3 linked regions of the Homo sapiens genome follow. The protein of the gene in region 1 interacts with the protein of each later gene in a biochemical or structural test. Each region holds a gene or a part of one and is shown in the gene's direction. Other genes may lie near its edges.

What was found.
Region 2: the proteins of C1D (region 1) and NR1D1 form a complex in vitro, tested with the Homo sapiens proteins (one study listed by BioGRID).
Region 3: the proteins of C1D (region 1) and EXOSC10 form a complex in vitro, tested with the Homo sapiens proteins (one study listed by IntAct).

Annotation. Positions count from the first base shown.
Region 1 is NC_000002.12:68,045,917-68,053,021, reverse strand, and holds part of C1D (nuclear nucleic acid-binding protein C1D), read left to right. Parts: intron 1-5,702; 5' UTR 5,703-5,711; coding exon 5,712-5,849; intron 5,850-6,611; coding exon 6,612-6,678; intron 6,679-6,978; coding exon 6,979-7,034; intron 7,035-7,105. UniProt on the Homo sapiens protein: Plays a role in the recruitment of the RNA exosome complex to pre-rRNA to mediate the 3'-5' end processing of the 5.8S rRNA; this function may include MPHOSPH6.
Region 2 is NC_000017.11:40,097,494-40,105,201, reverse strand, and holds the start of NR1D1 (nuclear receptor subfamily 1 group D member 1), read left to right. Parts: upstream 1-4,612; 5' UTR 4,613-5,107; coding exon 5,108-5,138; intron 5,139-7,708. UniProt on the Homo sapiens protein: Transcriptional repressor which coordinates circadian rhythm and metabolic pathways in a heme-dependent manner.
Region 3 is NC_000001.11:11,075,808-11,082,912, reverse strand, and holds part of EXOSC10 (exosome complex component 10), read left to right. Parts: intron 1-34; coding exon 35-225; intron 226-254; exon of another isoform or gene 255-379; intron 380-1,674; coding exon 1,675-1,831; intron 1,832-2,000; coding exon 2,001-2,149; intron 2,150-2,363; coding exon 2,364-2,414; intron 2,415-3,090; coding exon 3,091-3,202; intron 3,203-5,261; coding exon 5,262-5,312; intron 5,313-5,469; coding exon 5,470-5,548; intron 5,549-5,964; coding exon 5,965-6,071; intron 6,072-7,105. UniProt on the Homo sapiens protein: Catalytic component of the RNA exosome complex which has 3'->5' exoribonuclease activity and participates in a multitude of cellular RNA processing and degradation events.

The DNA of each region.
Region 1 (7,105 bases):
CTTTAGGCATGTTCTTTAACTTCTTTTGGCTCAGTTTATTCATCTGTGAGGTTTAGATGAACAAGTGCATGTGGAATGCTTAGAGTAGTGCCTGGCACATAATCAGTGCTATTCAAGAGTTTGCTGCTGATATCGTAGAGTCACTGCTTGATCCTGGGGTCAGAGTAGCTAAGGGGACAGAGGGAAATTTCTGCGCTTTTTCTGTGGAAGGAATAAATACTCAGCAGCTGCCTATAATAAAGTGTTAGTAGAAATCAATTGAATTAGGAGGAATTTCTCATAATAGAAGAGCCTTTATTTTTTAGTCCCCCTTGTCTTTATTTTTTTAGTTAGGGAAAAGGCAAGTGGCTCAGTTCAGATTTAATGAGGGCAGTTATTCTTACTTACTACCATGCTTTCAGTGTTCACCCTAACCTGTTCTAACAATAAATAACTGCTTGTTTATTGGGGCTTAGGGACAGGGAATAATTGCAGGAAAAATCTCTACTATGTTCTTCTGAAGAAAGGAAATATTTTCTCGTAGGAAAATTTGATGAAAAAATTCACATTTAAATAAAGACCTTTTTTTGTTTTTTAAAAATACATACAGTATTTGTTAAGAGCCAAAATACTTTATTAAGTGCCTTTATTTGTTTTTTATTAAAAATTTAATATGTGCTTTTTGAAATGTAAACAATGAAGAATGAAGAGTTAAAAAAATGAGTCTGCTTTGAACCTATTCCCTAATCCTTGTCTCTTTTCAGAGAAAATGTCTATTTTTTGTATGTTCTTTCCAGACCTTTTTCTACATGTATGTATATACAATTTTTTTTTAAAAACCAAATGGCATATATTAGGCACATTATGTGTTATATACAATGTTCTCTGTTCTCTGACTTTTTCCTTCTCATTGTGTGTCACTATATATAGATTTACTTCTTTATTTTTAGAAGACATGTAATATTCTCAAGGATGAATATGGTGTAATTCATTTAACTGTTTCCCTGTCGATGAATATCTAGATTATTTCCAATATTTTGTTATAGTTTATTTCAACAAATGTATTGACTGTCAGGCAGTGCTTGTGAACGGATCACAAAAATTCCTGCTCCCATGCAGTTGCCTTTTGGCAGTAGACCGGCAACAAATAAATATATGTTAGTTGATATTGAGGAATGTAAGGTTGGGGAGGAGATAGGGAGTGTGGGGGAGGGGTGTGCATTTTAAAATGGGGTGGTTAAGAGTGAGATACCAATAGATGACATTTGAGTGGAGATCTGGTGAAGGTAACATAATGAGCTCTGAAGGTATTGGTAAGGGAGGAAGAGAGGAATAGAGTATTCTAGGAAGGAGAGAAGCCCAAAGGGAGGTAGGCATGTGCCTGATGTCGTGGGGGAAGAACAATGTGGCTGGAATGAAATAAGCAAGGGAGAGTGGGAGATGAAGTCACAGAAGGTGACGGGCAGTCAGGGCAGATTGTGTTGAGCTTTTTGAACCCACTGTAAGGATTTTTAAAAGATAAATAGTTATTATTTTTTGATTTTAAAAATAGAGTTGGGGTCTTGCTGTGTTGCCCAAGTTGGTCTTGAACTCCTAGGCTCAAACAGTCCTTCCATCTTGACCTCCCAGAGTGCTTGGATTACAGGCATAAGCCACTGCACCCAGCCTATAAATATGTATTTTAATTATAGATATGGGGTCTTGCCATGTTGCCCAGGTTGGTCTCGAACTCCTGGGCTCAAGCTGTCCTCCTGCCTTGGCCTCCCAAAGTGCTGGATTTACAGGCATGAGCCACCAGGCCGGGCCCACTGTAAGGATTTTTGTCTTATGTCGAATGAGGTGGCAAGCCTTTGGAAGTTTCTGAGCAGAAGCATGGCATAATCTTATTTACATTTTGAATGGTCTCTCTGTATTCTTGATAATAGACTTTGGCCAGAAGCAAGAAGGCTATTTAGGAGGGCATTCAGGCATGGTTTGGACCAGGATAGTGGTTTGGTGGTTTGGACCAGGATAGTAGCAGTAGAGGTGGTAGGACATGGCTAGATTCTGGGTGTGTATTAAAGATGAAGTGAGAGAGAGTAGTCAAGGATCACTCTGAAATTTTGGGACTGAACAATTGGAAAGTTGAAGTTGCCGTGAAATGAAATGATGAAAACTGCAGTAGGCAAGGTTAGGAATTTGGCTTTGGGCACGTTCTGTTTGAGAATTTATTAGACATCCAACCAGAGATATTGAGTATGCAGCTGGAAATGTAAATATGAAGTTCAATGGAGAGGTCAGGTTTGGAGAAACAAATGTTGGAGTCTTCAGTTTACTAAAGCAATTTAAAACCCTCAGTTTACCTGGGAGTAAATTAGAGAAGAGAGTCAGGAACAGCCTCTGGGCACTTCAAACTTGGTTAAGGGGCTGAGGATGTGAGAAGGATGCATCGAAGAGACCAAGAAAGGAGCCAGTGAGATAGAAAGGAAACGGAGAAAACCAAGAGAAGGCAGTCAACAGTGTCACTCAAGGAGAACTGAGAATTGACCATTGAATTTAACCATGTGGTAGTGTGGGTGACCTTGCCAAGTGCAATTTTGAGAGAAAAGTAAGGTATGTTTGTAGGAGATTTGAGAAAGGATGGAAGGAAAGGAATTAGAGACTGTTAGTATAAGCATCTCTTTTGAGGAGTTTGTTGTAAAAGAGAGAAAATGGGGCCTTAGCTGGGGGGTGATATGAAGTCAAGAAATTTTTTTTTTTTTTGTTTCTTTCTTAGATGGAGAAATAAAACATTTAAACTTATGGGTAATAGTCCAGCAGACGGACAGTTTGATACATGACAAACTGGAGTAAGTTTAGAGACAAGTTTGAGGAGGACATTTTAATTTATAAGCACATGTGCAAGGATTTTTATAGGCTAGATTCTTAAAAGGATTTCCTGAGTCAAAGGGTATGTGCATTTTAAAAACCTGTACCAATTTATATTCCACTTTCAGTGTATACCCTTTCTAACACTGAACATTCTTAATCTTTAAAATTATTGCCAATCTGATAGGTGATGATATCTTCATTATTTTAATTTGTTTTACTGCTTTCTAGGAACTGTTTATTTAGTCTATCTAATTCTTTGTGATATTTTGTCAGATACTTTCTCCTGGCTGTCTCTTGCCTTTTAACTTTGCTTATGGTATCCTTTTACCATGTACGACTTTTCAAAAATGTTTTTATGCAGTTAAGTTTGTCAGCCATTTCCTATAGCATTTGGGTTTCATTTAGATGATGTAAATATTTGATATAATCTAATATGTTTATACGTTTACATTTTTAATTCATTTGGAGTTTATTTTTGTGTATGTTATGAAAAAGGTTTTCCATCTTTCTCTGTATTCTTAAACAGCTAAATACCATAGGAGTTAACTGTTTCTTGAAGGTTTGAAAGAAATTACCTGTAAAATCTAGGACTAGAACCTCTTTGTAGGGTAGGTCTTTGACTACTGTGTAATTCTTTTTCTGTGGTTAATGATCTGTATGGTTTATGTACTTCTTTTTAGTTTTGGTAGTTGATATCTTCCCAAGAACATCATTGTTTTCATTTACATTTTCAAATTTATTGGTTCAAAATTCTACATAAAGTGAGAAAATAACCAAGTCTTCTTTGCAGTATATCCCTATACTTATACCTTTATCTAGGCAATAAATGCTAGAGCTGTCCTTTCACAGATCTGGAAATTAGGTTAGCTATTTTCAGCGCTTATGGCTCTGTTCTTGGAGTTATTTCTAAATTCTTATTCTCTTTTGTTTGTAAGGTTTCTTGGCTTTGTTTCCTGTTTGCAGTCTGATCCCATTTGCTCTTTTTTTTTTTTTTTTGAGAGACAGTCTAACTCTGTTGCCCAGGCTGAAGTGTAGTGGCACAATCTTGGCTCACTGCAACCTCCACCTCCCAGGTTCAAGCAGTTCTCCTGCCTCAGACTCCCAAGTAGCTGGGATTACAGGCGTGCGCCACCACGCCTGGCTAATTTTTGTATTTTTAGTAGAGATGGGGTTTCACTATGTTGGCCAGGCTGGTCTCGAACTCCTGACCTCAGGTGATCCACCTGCCTCTGCCTCCCAAAAGTGCTGGGATTATAGCGGGAGCCACCGTGTCCAGCCCAATTTGCTCTTTAGCTTACACAGTTTCTACTGTTGAAGTCTGCTGGTAGATCTGTGCTTTTCTTGGTTTCCAGCATTTTTATTTTCATGTTTTTCTATTTCATCTGTCATATTGTAGGGATTTGGGGAGGGATGAGCGGCAAGTGCATATTTTCAGTTAACCTTTTGAAATTGGAAATCAGTTCTTTTCTGTGTAGTTTTGTTTTCTTATCGCCTTAACTGCTGGTTGCACAGTAGTTGGATAGTAACTTCACAACTCAAGTAGTAATAGATAGACTTCACTTTATTTTTTTAATGAAACCAAATGTCTCAGTGGAATATACTCATTCAGAAAAAATGTTGATATGTTGTCACTAAATATTTAAATAGTACTTTTCAAACTTAAAAGTAATCATAACATTTAGAACTATAAGGAACTTTACAGATCATTAGACCAGCTGCCTTATTTTATGGATGAGGACTTTGAGGCCAAGAGAGATTCAATGATTTATCTCAGGTGACAAAGTCAGTGATCAAGACAGAAAGCCCAAGTCTCTTTACTTCCATTCTGCAATGCTATTTGCTGTCATACACATTCATGCTGTTCTCCTTACCTATGTGATAAAGGAGGTATTTCTGTTAATACAAAAAAAATTTTTTTTATTCTAGAGATGTTACCTATGGCTTGGAATTGCTTCTAAAATTTGGACTTAGATACTTTAATAATACATTGATATAGGTGAATTTTTAAAGCATGGGCTGTCAGAGTATGCACTAGCACAAATGAAAACCATATTGTTTATTTCCCCCAAGTTTCCTCTTTTCTGCTTATGGGCTTTATATGATTTATAGACTCTTTGGATTTCTTATTAATATTTTAAAGAAGCTTAAGGAATATAAATATATATAGGCTTGAAAAATGATTTCTGTGATACGTATTTTAGACCTAAGATTTTTACTTTTTTAGTTGAATATAATATGCTCCTAGATCAACACCTATATTTAGAAGGACTAAAATACATGTTTTTCTAAAAAAAGTGCTTTGCTTACCATTTCTTCAGCAATCATTAGGGGATCTATTTATCAAACTTTAATTGCTTTGCTAATTCAACAGTTTTTAAGATGTAGGATTTTGATTATTGCTATCTCATGTTTGGTCATCATGTCTTTAGTTCTGTAAAAGTTCTGTAAAAATACAAAAAAATTACCTGGGCATGGTGGCAATGGGCCTGTAGTCCCAGCTACCCAGGAGGCTGAGAGGTGGGAGGATCGCTTGGGCCCAGCAGGCGGAAGTTGCAGTGAGTGGTGATTGCACTATCCTGGGCGACAGAGGGAGACCCCATCTCAAAACAAAACAAAACAAAAATGTTGAGGGTTTGGTGTGCATAGCATTAGTGGGCTTCGGTTGGTTCTTCTTCCACAGCCCCCCAAGAAACTTAAGAAGGGGACAAATTGGAATGTAGTTAATCTAGAATTAAATTTTAAAAAGATTTGTCTTCAGGTTTTAACTCTTAGTGCCTTTGAAATACATGATATGACCTATTGATTTTTTTTTTTGGAAACTAAAGAACAAGCTCTGTCTCTAATATGAATTCAAAGAATTTAATTTTTTCCAGTCAGCCATAATGGCAGGTGAAGAAATTAATGAAGACTATCCAGTAGAAATTCACGAGTATTTGTCAGCGTTTGAGAATTCCATTGGTGCTGTGGATGAGATGCTGAAGACCATGATGTCTGTTTCTAGAAATGAGTTGTTGCAGAAGGTATTTTAAAAATGTAATTTCCTAAAAATGAATTTCATAAAACAGAATGCTATTTTATGAAACATGTGGAAGAAGAAACAGATTAATGACCTATGCCCCTTTTCCCCTTTATTTCAATTTTATTAGTGTTTGGGTATTTTTAGGGGGGAAACAAAACAAAAGAAAACTCCAGCCTTAGGAAATACCTCCTAACTATGTTTTTAACTTAGTTTTGGAAAAAAAAAGGAGCACTCACGGTATTCTTTTTGACAGACTCTATCTTTGACCTTTTAAGTATTACAATGATGTTATCAGGGTTTCTGGAAACCCTATAGGACAAAAACAGTAAATTGACTTTGACAGTCTAAAACAAATCTCATTATGTTTCTTCTGTCTTTCGTATTGCCTAAGCCTGCTTCTTATACATAAATGCATCATGTACAATGTTTATATTGATAAATTACTTTTGACTTACAAAGCCCAGATCGTAACTCCCGAAATTAAAATAATTCAAAAGAATTTTTCTTGGGTTATGCACTTTCCTTGTCTAACTAAAGATGATACCCTAAGGTGAAAATGTGTGGACAAAAGTCACTCATTAAGAAAACTTCTTTTTACAAATTATTTTCAGATCATTTGGTTATTGGATTATATGAAGTGAAAAAAACTTCTTTGATACATTGTACTTGGTAAAAGTCAAATGTTATCAGATGGTGTTCAAAGTTTGTGTATTTTTTTTCTGTCTCACTTTCTCTCTTTCCCTCTCTCTTTCTTTTTTAACAGTTGGATCCACTTGAACAAGCAAAAGTGGATTTGGTTTCTGCATACACATTAAATTCAATGTTTTGGGGTATGTGTGTTACTTTGGAATTAATTAGAAAGCAAATTACTTATTGTGTGAAAGATGATTTATTTTTAAAATGCTAACAATTTATTTACAATTATACTTTATAACACTTTTAATAGATACTTATTTTTAAATCTAGATGCCAGTGAGCCACACATAGATTTAGTATTACATGGAAATTGAATAATTTAAAGTTTAATTGTTTGTAGGACTTTCCTTTTTTGTGAATAACTAGTTTCTTTAATTGGAATGTTTTAAATTAATACATTCACCATTTTATTCCATGAAATTTTTCTCTTGTAGTTTATTTGGCAACCCAAGGAGTTAATCCTAAGGAACATCCAGTAAAACAGGAATTGGTAAGATTTTAATTTCTTTTTATTTTATGTGTTTGTTGTTGTATTCCTGAGGTTTGTCACACTACCTTTGT
Region 2 (7,708 bases), on another chromosome or scaffold:
CCCCAAAACATCCAGGCTTTGGGTGGGGTTGGGAAAGATAGCTGGCCTTTTAGAGACAAAGAAAAGGATTTAGGAGGGCAGGGAGTGAGTCTCTCCCAGGCACATGGCTGGTTCCCTGATTCAGGGGCATCCCCAGCATTTCTATACCAGGTTTGCATCACCTGGGCAGACAGGTTTCTACTCTGGGCAATGGTTTCTTGGTGAGAAAGGAGGGGGATGGGAAGGCATCTACAGAAGCCTGACCTGTTTCCAGCAAGGACCCACCCTCAGTCAGTCAGTCAGTCAGTCAGTCAGTCAGTCAAGCAGTTGGCCCAAGATTTAGGCCACCCAGAATTTGCACAGGGTGTTGCCCTGTTACCCAGAACAACCTACTGACAGGGAGAACAGATCTCAGATCAAACATGCACACCCACACACACAGCATTCACACTCACACACAAACATGCAGTCTCACTCATAGTCATAGAATCACACACACACACACACACACGTGCACACATACATAACTGACCAGAGCTTAGTGTTCTCAATACCTTTCCTTCTTCTCCTCTGTGTCTGCTGTCCTCTGCAGTCCAAATAAATCAAGGAAAATTAAAGACATATTTGGAAACACACAGGCAGGATCCAACACTGCCCCTAATGGGAAGGTTCGTCCCCAGAATCCCAGACTTGGGAATCCAAGTGGAAGTGTATGCAGAACCAGGGCAGTGCCTTGCTGTACCAGGTTGTGAATATGCATCTTTTCTACCTGGATCCAATCTGAGTACTATTTATGAAGAGTTAAGTGCTTTCTTGAGTTGAACTGGGCTATGGGAGAAATGGGGTGTGTGTGTGTGTGTGTAGAAGTGAACAGCAGGCCGGGCATGGTGGCTCACGCCTGCTATCCCAGCACTTTGGGAGGCTGAGGTGGGTGGATCACCTTAGGTCAGGAGTTCAAGACCAGCCTGACTAATATGGTGAAACCCCATCTCTACTAAAAATATAAAAAAAATTAGCCAGGCATTGTGGCGTGCTCCTGCAGTCCCAGCAACTTGGGACGCTGAGACAGGAGAATGGCTTAAACCCGGAAGGTGGAGGTTGCAGTGAGCCACTGCACTCCAGCCTGGGCGATAGAGTGGGACTCTGTCTCAAAAAAAAAAAGAAGTGAACAGCAATGTCCAGCTGGAGGGATAGGTGAGGAAGGTTGTGTTGAGATACACCTGTTGTCTTAAGGTCTTACAGCCAAGGTTGAGGTCAAAGAGAAACCAAGATTCTACTCCGAATCACCCAGAGCCAGACAACCCAGCCTTTCCCCCCTCCCTTTGGTGGCTTTGGGTCTCAGAGTTTCTGCCCTTCTCCCAGCAGCTGCTGACAGAGAAAGGAGCAGGGTACACAGACTGACTAGAAGCTTCTGGGGCCAAGAGAGAACCCTGCCTTTTCATTCTGTACTCCTCTCACCAGCTGTAGAAGAAAGACACCCGAATTACTTGTGAGGGAGAAAAGGAAGGGCCCTATAAGAAATGGAAAGGAAGGAAGGAAGGAGCAAGGGGGTAACCCCTCTCCTTTGCCCCCTCCCTCCCAGCCTCTGCCTTCACACCACACACAGACTGCAGAACCACCCAGGTTTTGCCAAGAGGAGAGTCAGGCTGACTGAATTTCAGCTCTCTCTACCTCTGCTCCCTCCTCCTTCTCACTGATTGCAGCAGGCGAGGAGTCTTGACCCACCCCAGCTCCCACTCCTAGAAGAACAAACATCCAGCAAGTATACAGGGGGTGGGTAGGACCTCCACAGCAGCAAACAGAGCTGTGGGCCTTGGGGAGGACCCCGGCCAAGTAAAGGGAGGGTGCTAGTGGTGGTGCTGTGCTGTGGGGAGCTAGATGCACGCCAGGGGTCCTGATTTTGAGTCCAGCCCTGACAGACACCTGGGCTCTGGCCCTGGCTCTGACTTGGAGTCAAGGTCACAGAGAGCAGGCAAGGGCAGGACAGGGCAATTCACCTCCTAGCTTTCCCTCCAGAGCCCAGAGGGTGGAGGGAGAGGGGGTGGAGGCTGAGAACCAAGTTTTCCTGAAAAGCCTCTTTCCTTGTTTGTTTTAGCCCCTCCCAGTTGCTCCCACACTCTGCTGCAGCTTCCCAACTCTGGGCCAAAGGGCCAGAGAAGAGCCCACTGCCCTCTCTCTCCCACTTTTCTTGGGAGCAGGAGAACAAAGCTAAAGCCTAGCCCATTCCAGGAAGCTCATCTTCTACAAGGAGTCAGAGGGTGAGTGGTCAAGCTCCTGCAGTCAACCTCACTGTCCTCACTACCCAGTTTACTCCTGTGCTCATATTATTATTCTTTTTTTTTTTTTCTTTTTTTGAGATGGAGTTTCGGTCTTGTTGCCCATGCTGGAGTGCACTGGCGCGATCTCAGGTCACTGCAACCTCTGCCTCCCGGGTTCAAGCAATTCTCCTGCCTCAGCCTCCCGAGTAGAGTAGCTGGGACTACAGGCGTGCGCCACCACGCCCAGCTAATTTTTGTATTTTTAGTAGAGACGAGGTTTCTCCATGTTGGCCAGGCTGGTCTCAAACTCCTGACCTCGGGTGATCCACCTGCCTCGGCCTCCCCAAGTGCTGGGATTACAGGTGTGAGCCACCACCACACTTGGCCTTTTTTTTTTTTCTTTGAGATGGACTCTCACCCTGTTGCCCAGGCTGTTGTGCAGTGGCATGATCTCGGCTCACTGCAATCTCCATCTCCTGGGTTCAAGCAATTCTCCTGCCTCAGCCTCCCGAGTGGCTGGGACTACAGGCGTGCGCCACCACGCCCAGCTAATTTTTGTATTTTTAGTAGAGATGGGGTTTCACCATGTTGGCCAGGCTGGTCTCGAACTCCTGACCTCAGGTGATCTGCCCACTTCAGCCTCCCAAAATGCTGGGATTACAGGTGTCAGCCACCACCCCCGGACTCCCATATTCTTTTTCTCTACCTTTTCGGTGGCTTTCATGTTTCCCAGGCATCCATCAATACCATCCCAGGAGCTGCCTGTGGAGAAGGGCTTCCTATGTGAAGAAAACCCTCTCTAGAAGCACTGGGACTGGGGAGGAATTAGCGGGAGCAGCAGGTGGCTCAGGCTCCCTCTCCCTTCGCTGCCTAAGAAGCTTCCATCCCCTCCATGACCCAAGCCCTCTAACATGATAGATCTCCTCTACTTGAGATCTGTTATTACTCATGGGACAGTTGCTGCTCTGAAGCGAAATACTGGCTGTTTTTTGTTTGTTTGTTTTGGAGACAGAGTCTCACTCTATCCCCCAGGCCGGAGTGCAATGGCGATCTCGGCTCACTGCAACCTCCACCTCCCGGGTTCTAGCGATTCTCCTGCCTCAGCCTCCTGACTAGCTGGGATTACAGGCACCCACCACCACATCCGGCTAATTTTTGTATTTTTAGTAGAGACGTGGTTTCACCGTGTTGGTCAGGCTGGTCTCAAACTCCTGACCTCAGGTGATCAACCCACCTCAGCCTCACAAAGTGCTGGGATTACAGGCATGAGCCAAAGCACCCGGCAATGCTGGCTGTTTCTAACCCCTGTTCAGTATTTCACTTGTACATCTACCCACCTTCCCATTCGGGGTGGGCAGATGAAACTAGCAATGGACGTCTGACCTTGGGTCGGTCACTTCTCCTAAGCTTCCTGTTCCCCACTAGTAAAAAGAGGGAGGCTTAAGATGATCTACATGTTCCCCTCTGAGTAGTAATCTTCTGTGGAATTCATATTTTATCCTCCAGCACCGAGGGGCAGGGGTGTCACTCTGCCCCCACCCCCTGCCTCACCTCTTCCCCATTACTTTAGGACCTCAAAGCACTTTCACTATTAGTTCCCCTCTGTTGTCCTTTTTATTTCCCAGACAAAGGGAAATGACTCACCCCAAAGTCAACTGGAGTGGGTGGAATGGTGTCATACAAGCAAACAGGGAGTCCCTACAGACATCCCTACCTCTGTGGGAACTCCTTCCCCTGGAGGTGTTCTCCCTAAGGCGAGTAGAAGGGAAAGGGGGTCACATTTCCTTTCCTTCTCTGGACTTTGCCCTGAAGCAGAGGGCAGCCTAAGCTCCTGACTCCAGGGAAATCTCCCTCCCCGGCTTCTCTCTCTCCCGGTCACCAGTAACCTCAGGACGAGGTCAGTCCTGCAATCACGTGAAGCCCTCACGTTTGCAAGGTTTGCAGAAAGGGCCTCTTAGCTTTGATCTCCCAGACAGCAAACAAGCTTGCCAGTCCCTCCCCAGAAATTCACATGCCCCTGCCATACAGGCTTTCTAAACACGCCACCCTGACTCTTCAGCGCACCCCACCCCACCCCACTCTCAGCTCCTCCCAGGTCCCGGCAAGCGCTTTGCCAGGCAGAAAGGGGAAAGGCACGCAGTCCGCCCACTTTGTCGGTGGACTACAAATCCCGACAGTCTTGTCGTTGCGCAGGCGCGCAAGAGCTCAACGTGCCGGCTGTTGGAAAAGTGTGTCACTGGGGCACGAGGCGCTCCCTGGGATCACATGGTACCTGCTCCAGTGCCGCGTGCGGCCCGGGAACCCTGGGCTGCTGGCGCCTGCGCAGAGCCCTCTGTCCCAGGGAAAGGCTCGGGCAAAAGGCGGCTGAGATTGGCAGAGTGAAATATTACTGCCGAGGGAACGTAGCAGGGCACACGTCTCGCCTCTTTGCGACTCGGTGCCCCGTTTCTCCCCATCACCTACTTACTTCCTGGTTGCAACCTCTCTTCCTCTGGGACTTTTGCACCGGGAGCTCCAGATTCGCCACCCCGCAGCGCTGCGGAGCCGGCAGGCAGAGGCACCCCGTACACTGCAGAGACCCGACCCTCCTTGCTACCTTCTAGCCAGAACTACTGCAGGCTGATTCCCCCTACACACTCTCTCTGCTCTTCCCATGCAAAGCAGAACTCCGTTGCCTCAACGTCCAACCCTTCTGCAGGGCTGCAGTCCGGCCACCCCAAGACCTTGCTGCAGGGTGCTTCGGATCCTGATCGTGAGTCGCGGGGTCCACTCCCCGCCCTTAGCCAGTGCCCAGGGGGCAACAGCGGCGATCGCAACCTCTAGTTTGAGTCAAGGTCCAGTTTGAATGACCGCTCTCAGCTGGTGAAGACATGACGACCCTGGACTCCAACAACAACACAGGTACTGAGATTTCTTTACTATCATCTTTTCCCTGTCACTGTCTCCCCACCTCCATCTACGCCTTATAAAAAGAGGAACTTTGTAAGGGACTGGGGTGTCCCTCGGCCCGGAGATTTGCTAACGTGCTGCGGTGCTTTAGTGTGGGATTTCCAGAGCGGCTTGTTCGGGCTGGAAATGCTCTCAGAAACGCCCCATCACCACCCCTCAGAGTCCCAAAGCTCCCTTGAGCCTCGAATCCCTGGGCAGGAGGAAATGGAGAGGAGGTACGGGTGGTGAAGCGAAGAATTTAGGGGGACTGGGAGCTTTGGAACAGTGCCCCGAAACGGCCCCATCTGTCCACTACCTGCAGCTGTAGTATGCCTGGCCTCAGAAAACGGACCCCCTCCCCTCTTGTCTTCCCCCTCCTCTAGTTCCTGCAGGCGCGAGGGAATCTGAGAAGAGTGGCGCGATGGGGTTCAGGGAAGGAGGGGCTGGGAGAATCGTTCGGATCTCACTGGGGAATCCTCAGTGACAGGAGGGAGCGACACTTGAGGAGTCCAGAGCGTGGTGCCCGGCCCGAGGGAGGGCACCTACAGGGCTCCGGCCGCCGGGAGGGCTCACATGGCTCTAGAGCCGGGCCCACGTGCTGCGTTTGTTTTCATTCAGCAGAAGCCGTGGCTGCCACCCCATTGGTCGTTGCCTCCCGGCCTCGTTACATAATGAGCTCCGCCCCCCCGGTCGCCCCGGCAACGCGTGTTCCCTTCTCTCCTCCCCTAGGTTGTCCTGGCCCTGCTATCGTTCGGGGTCCAGCCCACGACCTGGTGGCCGGGGAAGGGCGGGTAGGAGGCGGGGCGACTGCTCTCGATTGACGGGAAGCGAGGAGGGCGGGGCCTCGAGTTCCGGGGTTCCTCGTTGGGGAGCCACGTGCGAGAGGCACACGTGGAGCAGGGACGTGAGGCCGGCTGAGGGCCCAGCTCCCGCCCTGCCCCGCCCCGCCGAGATCTGGGTGAAGCTGGGCTGACTCACCGCCCCCGCCTGCCTCCTTTTCCGGTCCGCCTGCCCGGCCCCCTCCCCCATCACCAAAACAAAGTAACATGGAGCCATTCCTGACCTTTCATGGCCTTCTGTTTTACACTCCCTAAAGAGACCTCACCCCTAACCACCCTTCTCACTCCTTTCCACTTCACTCTTATTTGCACCTACTTCACCGTACTGCATTTAGACTCAGCTTCCCCACATTACAAATTCCTGTTCCCCAAGCTTCTCTCTCCTTAGTTCTGCGAGCATTGTCTTACCCCCATCTCCACCAGACAAGCTGCAGTTTGCCTACTAAGGGCTCCCCAAAGCAACTGCACCCCACAATCATAGCTGAAATGATACTGTCCTTTTTTTCTCACAGAAAGGAAAACTGAGACCCAAAGAGGGGAGTTGATGTCCTCTAGGTCACAAAATAAGTTGGTAGTGATGGGTCTAGACCTAGACCTAGACTCTTGAGTATGCTCCTCACTTCCACGTTGGAAGCCTCTGCATGAAGGTCTCACTCCTTTTTGGGGGATGGGTGAACTAGGTCAACTTCATTTACTGCCAACTAATGATTCCATCCCCCACCTCAGCCCTGAAACCGGGGGAGCTGATCTGTTGTGCAACTATTTTCCAAGGAGCTGGGTTCACCCTGACCAACCTTGAGCTATTTTAGGGCCGCCCTGCCCAGTTCAGTGTGTGTCAGTGGGTGAGCAAGACATGTGCCTCTGCAGACACAGTGGCATGGCATGTGTTAGGTCACATGTGTCCTGGGATCCTCCCTTCTCCCACCCCGCCCATGGCAGACCAATCTAGGTGCTTGCCGGAGGTGTGGCAGGCAGGTCACCTTTTTCTCCTGCTAATACCACGGGAGCACAGCCACCTCATTGGCAATGTAACCAGAGGGTCAAAGTCCCTGAATGGCCAGAGAGCCAAGGTCATTGTTACCAGGCTGAGATCTGAAGGGGGAATTTTAGAGCCCCAGGCTGGACAGTTTGTACTTCCACCTCCTGCAACTCGCACCTCGAAGTCCTTTTTGGACACAGGGATAGACTCCACTGTGGCTCACTCTCTTAAGAGGCCAGGGGAACCAGGCTGGGCAGATTCCTTCCCTTCATTTCCTTCAGAGAATATATGTCCCCAACTGGGGGGAATGTGACTGTCTTACTTTTGTAAACCCTCCATTCTCTTTACTGTTGGCTACCTATCTCTCCATGGTCCATGGTCTCATTCCTGGAATGGTCTTAGTGTTAAAATCAGCAGCTGGGTTTTTGTTTTTGGAGGACTGGGCACTTTGAATGGTGCTCAGCTGCCCATCCCATCCCCAGATCTTCAACTGACAACTAAGTCATTAGCTGCAGTCGATATTCCCAAGGAAGGCAACTAAGGAAGGGGGGCACATATGCGAGATGCCACAGGGGTCATGCCTCATACTGAAAGCAGAAGCTGAAGGTGGCCTGCAAAGGGTCGTAGGTGTTGCTTGGCCATGCCATGTCTACTGTGTGTTGGGGAATTGCTTATTAACTCCAAGATTAGGGGCTCCACATGGTGAACTGAGTGGCCAGCAATGT
Region 3 (7,105 bases), on another chromosome or scaffold:
CCAGTGTACTGCATGACTTTGGTTCTGTTTTCAGGTCTTTCATGGTGCTGATTCAGACATAGAATGGCTACAGAAAGACTTTGGGTTGTATGTAGTAAACATGTTTGATACTCATCAGGCAGCACGCCTTCTTAACCTGGGCAGGCACTCACTCGATCATCTCCTGAAACTCTACTGCAACGTGGACTCAAACAAGCAATATCAGCTGGCTGATTGGAGAATACGGTCAGTTTGCTCTTACTGAGGAAATGTGGGTGGCAGAAGAAAGTGATTATTCATTAACCTGTCGTCCAGAGAGACCTGGGTTTGAGCCCTACCACGCTCATTGAGATGAATGGCATCAGGCTTTTCGCCAGGCATCTTCAGCAGCGTAAAAGTGGTAGGAAATTTTTTAATGCTAAGGTGGACTTTATGATGGGCTGATGCAGTTACACTGTGTTCCATGGAAATAGTGGTTGAAAAAGAGGTGCCGCACCAGTATTTGCCCATGCTGGTCTTTTGTTTGAAACTGGGATCTTTCTACCAGATGATTTTGTGTGTGTGTAAGATCTTCTGTAGGGATGATTGTGTGTGTGTGTGTGTGTGCAAGATGACCTTCCATAGGTGGGAAAGAATTCTAAGGGACACTGTTGTTTAGCTTTACACTGAGCGTTTTTTTGTGGCATAAGGTAGCAGTTTTGCCCCACTTCCTGCAGGCCTTGCTCAGCTTGGTCGTTTTCCGCTTGGTTGCTACCTCTCCGAGGTTGCACCTGTCATAGGAAGGTGCTACTGAGCTTTTTCAGGAATTCCACATGCCAGAATGCCAGAATTTCTTTTTTTCTTTTTTTTTTTTTGAGATGCAGTTTCACTGTTGCCCAGGCTGGAGTGCAATGGCGCGATCTCGGCTCACCACAACCTCTGCCTCCCGGGTTCAAGCAATTCTCCTGCCTCAGCCTCCTGAGTAGCTAGGATTACAGGCGTGCACCACCACGCCCAGCTAATTTTGTATTTCCAGTAGAGACGAGGTTTCTCCATGTTGGTCAGACTGGTCTCAAACTCCTGACCTCAGGTGATCCTCCCGCCTCCGCCTCCCAAAGTGCTGGGATTACAGGCGTGAGCCACCGCGCCTGGCCCAGAATGCCAGAATTTCTAAATATAAAAGTAAAATTACATTTGGACTGATAAAATCCAAATAAAAGATAAAAATTGATAAAATCTAAAAACCACTCCCTGTTACGGAGCCCTTACCCTGTGCCAAGCTCTGGGCTAAGTGCTTCAAGGATGTGGTCCTGTGTAGTCCTCACAACAGCCTATGAAGTACCTGGTTCCCATTTCACAAGTTAGGTGGGTCAGCCCAAAGAGGTTAAGGAACTTGTCCAAGGACAGACATCTGGAGCTGAGATTTGAACTCAGGACACCAGTGGCCCCTTTTCTACTGCCTCTTGTGTGTGTCCAGAGTAGCTGACAGTGCCCTTATTTTAACCACCGCATTACCCTGCCTCCAATTCTACCCAGCTGTTAAAATAATGGTTTATCATGTTAAAATGCAGGAAATGTTGGCATAACTGCAGTATTGACTATGAAAGGATCTTTCATATTGGAAGGGTCTAAGGAAGTCCCAGCACCCAAGGAATAGACAAATTGAATTGCTGTCCTTGGGGGCAATCAGTAAAACATTGTCCTCTGCAATTCCAGCCCTCTGCCCGAGGAGATGCTCAGCTACGCCCGGGATGACACCCATTACCTGCTATATATCTATGACAAAATGAGGCTGGAGATGTGGGAGCGCGGCAACGGGCAGCCGGTGCAGCTGCAGGTGGTGTGGCAACGGAGCAGGGACATCTGCCTCAAGGTACACCTCAGCCGCAGTCACACAGACCGCGACACTTGGGCTCTGTGTCTGGCCAGGTTCTAGTTCTTAGGTTTGCTCCTTACATTCATGAAAAGAGCCAAACATTTTCCAGAGCCCAGGGCACAATTTTGATTCCCGTTGATTTTGAATGTTCTCTAATACTTTGTAGAAATTCATCAAACCTATCTTCACGGATGAGTCCTACCTTGAACTCTATAGGAAGCAGAAGAAGCACCTTAACACACAGCAGTTGACAGCCTTTCAGCTGCTGTTTGCCTGGAGGGATAAAACAGCTCGCAGGGAAGATGAAAGTTACGGGTAAGGGATTAGAGGTTCTTTTAATACTTGTTTCCAGACTGAGGAGATCTAATAACAAGTAAATAATGGGCTTTTTTCTTTTGCTATGAAAGCTGGTTATTTCCCCTATGTGACAGCATCTAATGGAACTTACTGGCTGAATGTAATGTGTCCCCACCGTGTGTGTGTGTGTGTGTGTGTGTGTGTGTGTGTGTGTGTGTTTTTTTTTTTCCAGATATGTACTGCCAAACCACATGATGCTGAAAATAGCTGAAGAACTGCCTAAGTGAGTTTCAAATCTGATTAATATGTTCTGACTTTCTCAGTAGATCTGATGTTCTTCAAAATCAAGCTTTTCTGGTTGCTATTACCCAAGGCTGCTTACTCAGAGATTAATGCTCCAAGCTTGGAAGGTAGCAAGTTGAAGGAATATAGAATTTCTGCCCTCAGGCTGCCATTTAAGCACTAAAACTTCTGAACTGGAATCATTTCAATGATTATGCCTTAGTTTGAGTTTATTTTAAGTCTCTGAGCCTTATAGCATCTACTTGCAAGGGAAGAAAATGTCCCAGATTCTGTCATCTGTACTTTCTTCCAAATTAAAGCAGCTCATGATCTTAAACGTTTTGTGATCTTGATTGAAGTATAAGCAAGAATGAAAATCCACAGCCCGTTGGTTGCCCCCTGCGGAATTGAGAATCCACAGTGCTATGGCACTTACTTTCAGCTCTCCCTGATTGTGGGAGTCAGGCTCCAAGAGGGATCCACTTAAAGCTTGGTGTCGCAAAGAACACATGGAGAAGTTGGCCTAGGCTGGCCTGACATCAGTGTTTCCTTAGTCACCTACCTGTAGCTTCAGCTTAGGTGGCAGCCTGGCTTTACCCAGTCATTATTCTTATCTGGAAGCCTTTAAGGGCTGCGTTTCTGAGTGACAAGTTGAGTGTGTTCTTACTTGTCTTCAGGGAACCTCAGGGCATCATAGCTTGCTGCAACCCAGTACCGCCCCTTGTGCGGCAGCAGATCAACGAAATGCACCTTTTAATCCAGCAGGCCCGAGAGATGCCCCTGCTCAAGGTAAGAAGCTTTTCTGCGGCTGGGCACAGTGGCTCACGCCTATAATCTCAGCACTTTGGGAGGCTGAGGTGGCTGGATCATTTCAGGTCAGGAGTTCGAGACCAGCCTGGCCAACATGGTGAAACCCCGTCTCTACTAAAAATACAAAAAATTAGCCAGGCGTGTGGTGCACGCCTGTAATCCCAGCTACTCCGGAGGCTGAGGCAGGAGAATTGCTTGAATCCGGGAGGCGGAGGTTGCAGTGAGCCGAGATCGCGCCACTGCACTCTAGCCTGGGAGGCAGAGCGAGACTCCGTCTCAAAAAAAAAAAAAAAGATTTTCTACTGAAGGGTCCCAACTTAGCAAGCCTGTTTTTTTTTTGTTTGTTTGTTTTTTGTTTTTTTTAGACGGAGTCTCGCTCTGTCTCCAGGCTGGAGTGCAGTGGCATGATCTCGGCTCACTGCAACCTCCGCCTCCTGGATTCAAGCAGTTCTCCTGACTCAACCTCCTGAGTCGCTGGGATTACAGGCATGCACCACCACGCCTGGCTAATTTTGTATTTTTAGTAGAGGCGGGGTTTCACCATGTTGGCCAGGCTGGTCTCGAACTCCTGACCTCAGGTGATCCACCACCTGGGCCTCCCAAAGTGCTGGGATTACAGGCGTGAGCCATCATGCCCAACTTTAGCAGGCCTGTTTTTTCTGCTAGTGTCTTATTCCTTGTGGCTTCCTAGATTCATGAGCTGGTCTGCATTCTAAACAACCCTAGGGAAATAATAGGGCTTAGGAAATCCAGTGTGTGTGTCTTGATGAATTTAGCTGCTTTTTTTTATGATAGTTGAGAGCTAAGACTCTTTATTTATGACCTTAGCTTTGATGATTCAGCAGCAAGTACTGTCTGGTAACTGGGCCAATTCACTGTTCTAAGGCAGTTAATGTGGTGGAGTGAGATGGAGCGGTGACCTCAGCAGAGGGAGCTAGTTTTGGGAGCCTGGCGATGGCCCAGATGTGAAGTGATAGCTCCCTGAATGAGTGAGGAATCACACACTGAGAAGGAAAGAACAGGTGTAGGAAGCATCAGAAGAAAAGATTGATGAGACTTCGTAGCAAATGCTGACAATGGCAGCCAGTTTTCTTTTGTTTTTTTTGTTGTTGTTGTTGTTTTGAAACAGGGTCAGCCGGGCGCGGTGGCTCACGCCTGTAATCCCAGCACTTTGGGAGGCCGAGGCGGGCGGATCACGAGGTCAGGAGATCGAGACCATCCCGGCTAAAACGGTGAAACCCCGTCTCTACTAAAAATACAAAAAATTAGCCAGGCGTAGTGGCGGGCGCCTGTAGTCCCAGCTACTTGGGAGGCTGAGGCAGGAGAATGGCGTGAACCCGGGAGGCGGAGCTTGCAGTGAGCCGAGATCCCGCCACTGCACTCCAGTCTGGGCGACAGAGCGAGACTCCGTCTCAAAAAAAAAAAGAAACAGGGTCTTGCTCTGACACCCAGGCTGGAGTGCAGTGGTGCAATCATGGCTCACTGTAGCCTCGCATCTGCTAGGCTCCCACCTTAGCCTCCTGAGCAGCTGGGACCACAGGCATACACCACCATACCCAGCTATGTTTTTTTTAATTTTTTGTAGAGATGGGTCTTGCTGTGTTTCCCAGACTGGTCTTGAACCCGTGGGCTCAAGCAGTCCTCCCACCTCAGCCTCCCAAAGTACTGGAATTACAGTTGTGAGCCACCTGCCAGCCCCACATTTGCAATTTTTGTGTTAAAAATGTCTTTGTAAGCTCTGTACTTTGTCCAAGTAAAGAGAGACCTTGATTACTAGAGAAGAGTCTTTTTCAAGCTCTTTGGAATCCTTCCTATTGTGCTTAGTCATGTTAAAGAGCTTTATTCTTTCATTCTACAAATAATTATTGAGCACCAAATAATTATCATGCCAGGCACTGTAAGGAGTGAAGAGAGGAAAGAAAATCTCTGGGCTTTTGAGAAACAGGCTGGTGAAGGAATACAGTCAGCGCTGGAGACTGGGGGTTGGACTTGAGGTGCTTGGGCAACTTTCCTCAATTCCCTTCGTTTTTTTCCTTAGTCTGAAGTTGCAGCCGGAGTGAAGAAGAGCGGACCGCTGCCCAGTGCTGAGGTAGAGTGTCGGATCTGTTTTCTCCCCCAGGAGGGAAAACGTCAAGTCACAGCCAGTGCAAGTACACCTCTGACAGAGGCCTGTGCTGACAGCTGGCAGAAAGCTACTGCCGGCTTGCACGTTTTACATGCCAGCCTGCTGGTGTCTTTTAATGCAGAGATTGGAGAATGTTCTCTTTGGACCTCACGACTGCTCCCATGCCCCTCCGGATGGCTATCCAATCATCCCAACCAGTGGTAAAGTCGAGAGCCCTCCTGACTGTCCCGAAGAGGTTGGGACACAGCTACCTTGTCTAAAATTCTGTAGGCTTGGCCGGGCGTGGTGGCTTATGCCTGTAATGCCAGCATATTGGAAGGCTGAGGCGGGTAGATCACCTGAGGTCAGGAGTTTGAGACCAGCCTGGCCAACATGGTGAAACCCCATCTCTACTAAAAATACAAAAATTAGCTGGCATGGTGGTGGGCACCTGTAATCTTAGCTACTTAGGAGGCAGAGGCAGGAGAATCACTTGAACCGAGGAGGCGGAGGTTGCAGTGAGCCGAGATTGTGCCATTGTACTCCAGCCTAGGGGACTACACTAAAACTCCATCTCAAAAAGAAAAAATAAACAAAATTCTGTAGGCTTTGACCTTACTATCTTCTGCTCCTCTAGGATCTGTGCCAGTTCAGAAGCAGGCGAGCCTCTTCCCTGATGAAAAAGAAGATAACTTGCTGGGTACCACATGCCTGATTGCCACAGCTGTCATCACGTTATTTAATGTGAGTAGCACAGAAACTTCACTGAGGTGATGAGGACCCCCTGGGATTTACTGGATTTATTCAGCAGGCTGTCTGCCTGGAGCATTGCATACACTCGGAGACTAATGCTGAGAGCAAAACCCAGCAGTGCTGGGAGAGGCATAGAGACCAATGAGCAAGGTGGCACTGACCACTCTGGAGGAGGTGGTCTGGGGACGTGGATGGGGGATTCTCTTGAGCTCTGTGTGAAGAAATCTTCCAGGAAAGGCTGACGTCCTGTTGTTGAACAGCACCTAGTGGGAGGAGGGCCTGCGCTAAGAGAACATACAAGCAGGGCTTTCCAGACAAGCTGCAGTGGTGGTGGAGGAAAAACGGTTCACCTGGATGCCCAGCAGGGGTGGCATGGGTGTACTGTCCGATGAACTGTAGAATGTGCGCTGCCCATAGCTTCCTGCCTGACCCCAGCACCACATATGTGTGCTTTCAGTGAAGAAGAGAAATGATTTTTTTTTTTTTTGAGACAATCTTGTTCTGCCACCAAGGCTGGAATGCAGTGGCACAATCATGGCTCACTGCAGCCTTGACTTCTGAGGCTCAAACGATCCTCCTGCCTCAGCCTCCTGAGTAGCTGGGATTACAGGCATGAGTCACTGTGCCCAGCTATTTCACTTTTTTTGTTTGTTTGGTTTGGTTTTTTGAGATGGAGTTTCGCTCTTGTTGCACAGGCTGGAGTGCAGTGGCATCATCTCGGCTCACTGCAACCTCCACCTCCCAGGTTCAAGCGATTCTCCTGCCTCAGCTTCCCTAGTAGCTGGGATTGCAGGCGCCCGCCACCATACTTAGCTAATATTTTATATTTTTAATAGAGATGGGGCCACTATGTTGGCCAGGCTGGTCTCGAATGCCTGACCTCAGGCGATCCACCCACCTAAGCCTCCCAAAGTGCTGGGATTACAGGCATGAGCCACCACACCCGGCATTTTTTTTTTTTTTTTTTTTTTTTTTTTTTGTGACAGGATCTCATCCTGTCACCCAGGTGGGAGTGCAGTGGCACC